Regions from separate parts of the Homo sapiens genome. Here region 2 is reported to be linked to region 1. The links are microRNA targets in miRTarBase. Many come from high-throughput screens and were not tested one by one. Region 1 holds a microRNA gene; the other region holds the end of a gene's coding sequence.

The links. Region 1 holds the annotated microRNA hsa-miR-519d-3p (CAAAGUGCCUCCCUUUAGAGUG, at 1,817-1,838, shown strand). A microRNA usually pairs through its seed, bases 2 to 8, with sites in the 3' UTR of a target mRNA and lowers its output. Matches are read on the target gene's strand: a 7mer-m8 pairs with bases 2 to 8, a 7mer-A1 pairs with bases 2 to 7 and ends in A, and an 8mer does both.
Region 2: the mRNA of SLC22A23 is a reported target of hsa-miR-519d-3p. Seed matches in the 3' UTR shown: 8mer at 2,271-2,278.

What each region holds. Positions count from the first base shown.
Region 1 is chr19:53,711,584-53,714,779 of GRCh38, forward strand. MIR519D (microRNA 519d) reads left to right here and starts at 1,764; the gene lies at 1,764-1,851. MIR517A (microRNA 517a) reads left to right here and starts at 685; the gene lies at 685-771.
Region 2 is chr6:3,270,519-3,273,518 of GRCh38, forward strand. It overlaps SLC22A23 (solute carrier family 22 member 23), which reads right to left. Exons shown (of 10, transcript NM_015482.2): 10 at 1-2,894. The coding sequence ends at 2,537. Among named protein-coding and RNA genes, the nearest start is that of PSMG4, 13 kb to the left of the region's middle.

The sequences.
Region 1 (3,196 bases):
GAGCCCACCACCACACCTGGCTACTTTTTGTTTTTTGTTTTTTGTTTTTTTTTTAGTAGAGATGGGATTTCACCATGTTTGCCAGGCTGGTCTCAAACCCCTGACCTCAAGTTAGCCACCGGCCTCTGCCTCCCAAAGTGCTGGGATTACAGGCATGAGCCACCACGCCTGGCCTAATTTTTATATTTTCAGCAGAGGCGGGGTTTCACCATGTTGGCCAGGCTGGTTGCGAACTCCTGACCTCAGGTGATCTGCCCACCTCAGCCTCCCAAAGTGCTAAGATTACAGGCGTGAGCCACCACACATGGCCATTAACACCTTTTAGTCCATGGAAATTATTCTGGCACTGATTTATAAAGCCTCATGTGGGGTCAGGTAGAGTCAAAGGGGGACCTCAGTGTCCCTTGCAGATGGGATGTGCTCAGCAAGAGCACGGAGGTGGAGTGCATGGGGTTTGAGTTTTCACTGGGGAAATGAAACCAACATCTTGGGTGCATGACCAGGTCATATATGCAGTCATATATGCAATATGCATGGTGGTGGGTGCCTCTAATCCCAGCTACTCAGGAGGCTGACGCAGAAGAATCGCTTGAACCCAGGAGGCAGAAGTTGCCATGAGCCGAGATCCCACCACCGCATCCAGCCTGGGCGGCAGAGTGAGACTCCGTGTCAAAAAAAAGAAGATCTCAGGCAGTGACCCTCTAGATGGAAGCACTGTCTGTTGTATAAAAGAAAAGATCGTGCATCCCTTTAGAGTGTTACTGTTTGAGACAAGCAACGTTGAAGATGCTGCTGATCTTGGTAATACATTTGCAGAGCGTGCTTATCATCAGACTTGCATGATGTCGGGGTTCTGTTTGTGATTTGAAATTTTTCCAAGACAGGCTTTCTATTGCCCAGGCGTGGGTGGATAGCACCTTCCACCAAGATTTCTTGGGCTTAAGTGGTCCTCTTTTTATTTTTTGATTTTTTGAGACACACTCTTGTTTCGTTGGGAGTGCAGTAGCAGGATCTCTGCTCACCGGAAACTCCACCTCTCGGGTTCCAGTGATTCTCCCACCTCAGCCTGCCGAATTGTTGGGAATTCAGGCATCAGGCACCCACCATCGTGTCCTGCACTCTTGCTGCCCATCCTGGAGAGCACTGGCATGATCTAGGCTCACTGCAACCTCCGCCTCCTGGGTTCGAGTGATGCTTCTGCCTCAGCCTCCCAGGTAGTTGGGATTACAGGCACCTACTGCCCCACCCAGCTAATTTTTATGTTTTTAGTAGAGACGGGTTTCACCATGTTGGCCAGGCTAGTCTTGAACTCCCGCTTTCAGGTGATCCACTAGCCTGTGGTCTATCCTGGAGGATGTTTGTGTGTGTGACAATGTATATTCTTCAACATCTTAGACTCCATTTTGGATGCTCCCATCGGAACTATGTATCCCTGTGCTGGAACTCAAGTGAACACTCAGCTCAAAGTCCATTGCTGTTCTCTAGAAATCCAGCCCAGTTCTCTTGGTTAAATATAAGGTATGTGTAGTAGGCATTGCTTTTTCTCTTTAGAGGCAAAACTCAGGAGGGTTGCCCCTTGATGAACAAGGCTAACCTGCAGAGCCTTTGAAGAAAGGAACTGGAGATGGTCCTTTTAGGGGTTTATGTTCTGGATTCTAGAAAACAGGCAAACAGGGCCAATAAATGCATCTTTATTGTTGTGGCCATTTTAACCTGGTCAAGGAAGATTTCAACAAAAAACCCAGAGTGCTGGAGCAAGAAGATCCCATGCTGTGACCCTCCAAAGGGAAGCGCTTTCTGTTTGTTTTCTCTTAAACAAAGTGCCTCCCTTTAGAGTGTTACCGTTTGGGAAAAGCCACGTTGAAGATGATGCTGATCTTGGTAATACATTTGCAGACCATGCTTGTAATCAGACTTGGATGATGTTGGGAGTCTGTTTTTTTGTTTGTTTGTTTGGTTGGTTTTTTTGTTTGTTAGGTTTTTGTTTTTTGTTTTGGTGTGTGTGTTTTGTTTTGTGTTTTTTTTTTTTTCTAAGACAAGGTCTCTGTTGCCCAGGAGAGACTAGAGAAGCACTTTTTAAGATAGGCCTGTTGGGCTCAGATGGTCCTTTTATGGGATACAGTCTTGCTCTGTGACCCAGACTGGAGTGCAGTGGCGCGATCTTGGCTCAATGCAACCTCCACCTCCCGGGTTCGAGTGATTCTCCTGCCTCAGCTTCCTGGGTAGCTGGGATTACAGATGCCTGACATCACACTCGGCTAATATTTGTATTTTTCTTTTTTATTCATTCATTCATTTTTGAGATGGAGTGTTGCTGTCACCCAGCCTGGAGGGCAGTGGCATGATCCCGGCTGACTCCAACCTCTGCCTCTCAGGTTCAAGCCATTCTCCTGCCTCAGTCTCCTGAGTAGGTGGAATTACAGGCACCCACCACTACAACCAGCTACTTTTTGATTTTGATTTTTTTTTTTTTTTTTTTTTTTTAGTAAAGGTGGGGTTTCACCATGTTGGCCAGGCTAGTCTCAAACCCCTGACCTCAAGTGAGCCGCTGGCCTCGGCCTCCCAAAGTGCTGAGAATACAGGCGTGAGCCACCGGGCACAGCCATCAGCACCTTTTACTTTATGGAAATTTTTCTGGCACTGGTATAGAACCTCACGTGGGGTCAGGTGGAGTTGAGGGGACCTCAGTGTCCCTGCAGATGGGATGAGCAAGAGCACGGAGGTGGAGTGCATGGGGCTTCAGTGTTTATTGGGGAAATGAAGCTGAAATCTGGGTGCATGACCAGGAGATAAATGCATGAGACGGCGGTCTCACTATGCTGCCCTGGCTGAAGTGGGCTTAGATCCTCCTGCCTCTGCCCCTCCCCAGTCCTTGGTAGATGGGACCACATGTGAATATTAACCCCCCATGCACAGACAAGAAGAAAGTAAGGACTGTTCTTTGGTTCATACCTGACCCCAGTTAAACTTGTATTTTAGATAAACAATGTATTTGAGATGTACTTGAACAACAAACGATTTGCTGTTCAGGTGTGGGCATCTTTGTTTTGTTTTTTTTTTTCCTAATTTTAAATATGGGACTAGTGTGCATATGGTGGCTCTTGTCTGTAATTCCTGCACTTTGTGAGGCTGAGACAGGAGGATCACCTGAGATCAGTTGTTCGAGACCAGCCTGGCCAACATGAAGCCAGGAGGC
Region 2 (3,000 bases), not on the chromosome of region 1:
CAGGCTGCCCTGGGAGGAGAGCTGTGGGACCGCCTCGCCGGCTGAGAGCCATTACCTGCCGACCGTCGGCAAGTCAGCCTCACACCCACTGGACTCTGCTCCCAAGAGCCCAGGCTGTTTTCCTCAAAGCTAGCCTCTTTTCCAGTCATCGATGGATTAGTCCTGATGGCTGAAGTGCTGAGCAGTGTCTTCGTTGGACCAGTTTTTTATTGTCATTTGAGGTGGAGATCAGAGATCATGACCAGAAGAGTGTGAGTGCTGTCCCTTGCCACCAACTTCCTAGAGATTTCGGGCAGCACTCTACAGCTTCAATTTCCAAAAAAAAAAAAAAGTTTACACGACCAGTGAGACTGCTCGCAACTTTCATCACTTAGCATATCCTTCCACAACACAGTACAGTAAGTGGACTGCAGGGTGGCCTGGTGCTGAGGGTGATGGGTGCAGACGTACACCTGTCCAGGTGCAGGCTCAGGGGCCTCGCTGGATCCTTCCCACCTTCCCCAACTGCCTACTGGCCTGGCTACTGGATAGGTCCTATTCTGTACATAATGGGGGTTTGTTGACAGGTGGCTTTATAGCAAGTACTCCAAAAAAGGTAAAAGGAATTTCACAAGTTTGGCACGCAAAGGCTGCACAGATCTAAAGAAAGGCCTTTGTAAAGGTGAATGCAAACTAATGTTGAAACATGGAAATGTGACTTTAAAAAAGAGGGAAGGTGAGGAGCTGGACGTGGAGCAAGTGGAGGCAGGGAGAGGCTGGCCAGACAGCCTCCCTTCCTGGGTATCTCAAGATCCCAGGTGTCGGCGTGGTCCAGCCACTGGAAACACGTGGCCAAGAGTCTGCTTGCCCCTTGCTGTGTCTTTACACATCTCCAGGCCCTTACTGATGTGTGGACCGCATGTGGAGGAGACATGAGTGGCGACAGCAAGCAGCAGGCCGGGTGGAAAGCCAGAAGGGGAGAAGGTCAACCCCTTTTCTGCCCTGTGAATTCTAGCAACTGTCGGTTGGAAGTCACTTCATTGTCTCACCCAGGCCCGAGACCACAATTTCCCTGGAAGGACACAGCCCATGGCAAAGACATGCTTCGAGAAGGGATGAGTTGGACAATGCCAGTAAGAAGCCAGGCTGTCCAGAAAAGCTGGTGCCCAAGTTGCTACAAAGTGGTGCCTGCCCTTGCCAAGGAGGCTGTCTCTTAGTCGCCTTGGGTGTCCTACAAGTTTCCTCCGAAAATGCCAAGAGGAAACCTCCACTTTCTGGGGTGAAACGAGGAACACGAAGAGACCCATGGAGGTCGAGGCAGGGGCAGCGTTGAGCTTTGGTGAGTTATTGCTTTCTTTCAATTTGTCTTGATGCCTTCGAGAGGCTGGAGGTCATTTGGACTCACCTATGAGGAATCTCCGCTCCCTGCCCGAAGCCCCACCTCTGTGCTATGCGAGTGACTGCAAGCAGGAAGCTGGCCCAGGAAGGCAGGCGTGAGGGGGCCCAGCTCCTGCGGGTGCTCCCTGGAGTGATGTCTGAGGTGACGGCCATCCAAGCTGGTGATCTTCATGGTGTGTGCTCAAGGTGTGGGTGACGGGCGTGTGTGTGTGGAGGGCAGCCCCCCTTCTGTGGATTTGCCTCTGCCATCTTTTTGAGTTATTTTCTAATGGTTTGTAGCTTAGAAAGTAGCCATGTTTTCAAGTAGTGCCGGCACAAGAGCTGCCTGTGCACGAGGGACTTTTCTGCTGGAGCCAATCTGGGAGAGGAGGAATAAAAACGAGCACATCTCAGGTCTCGACGCATCTGTTAGCTGTGTACTCACAAAGCTGTGGCGATATGACTGCTGCTCAATTAAGATTTCTGGTGAAATGTTTAAGCTTTTTCTCCAAGAGCTTCCAGCATCAAGTACAAAAGGATGATCCTGAAGGAAAGATGAAGCTGGTTTTAACGGCGTCTGTGAGCTGCTTTCCCTGCACACGAACAGAAGCTCTTACCTTACAAACAGAAAGGGAAAAAGGACCTTAAAAAACCATACACAGACTCTAGCAAAAGCCAAATTCATGTACATTTCACTCCGTCTAAAATGCAGTCCCGGAAACGCTCCACGGTCCTCTCCTGCCTCTGCACGCAGGCAGGCAGCCTGGGGGGCTCCTGGGTGCTGCCAGGAGCCGTGTCCCATCTCCCCAGAGGGACCGGCCATGGCCCTGGTCACTGTGGCATCTTCCCAGAGCAACTGCGTCTCGCTGCCCAGGGAGGTGATTCCATTTGTGATCAGTGAGAGGGAGAGGGAATAAAGTGCTTCTCGTAAAAATGACCAAAATAAATACACACATTTAACGGCAGAAAAGAAAGTCTTGAAAGGGTTATTTCCAAAGAGTTTGTCTCCTCCGACCCGCGCTCCTTGGACTTTTGGAAAGACAGGATTTCCCCACACCAGTTGAGAGGCTCAGCTTGGCTGAGGCAGCTTTCCCACCCCTGGCTGCGTGTTCGGTCCCTGGTCTGTAAACCTGTGCCCAAGCTGCCCCAGACCCTGGAGCCCCGGGTTCCGCAGGCCGGGCTACATGGCCTTCATGCCGTTGGCCGTGGCACCCTCGGGCAGTGTGTCACCCGCGGCTGCGGCATCGTGGAGGCCCGAGTAGTCCTTGAGCTCGGCGTTGGTGAGCAGCAGTGGCTGCTCCCCCTTCTTGTGCGGCAGCAGCGGCTGGCGCGTGTAGTGCTCCCCGTTAGAAATGTTCTCAGGCAGGTTCTGGTCCCTGCTCTCGGGCAGCAGGAGGATGCAGATGATGCAGATGAGCGTGCAGCAGGCAAAGATGATGTGGTGCAGGAAGTAGCCTTTCTGGTTGTGCAGCTCGATGATGGGTGCCGTCAGCATGCCGAAGCCCGCGCTGGCCAGCACCAGCCCCAGCCCGCCACACCTGCAGGGGGAGGGAAGCACAGGGATTGCTGCTGTGGGCTAGCGGGCTGGATCCCGGGAAAGCTCGGGGTGGACCAGGAAGCCACCTCTGCAGGGGCCCTGCTGCC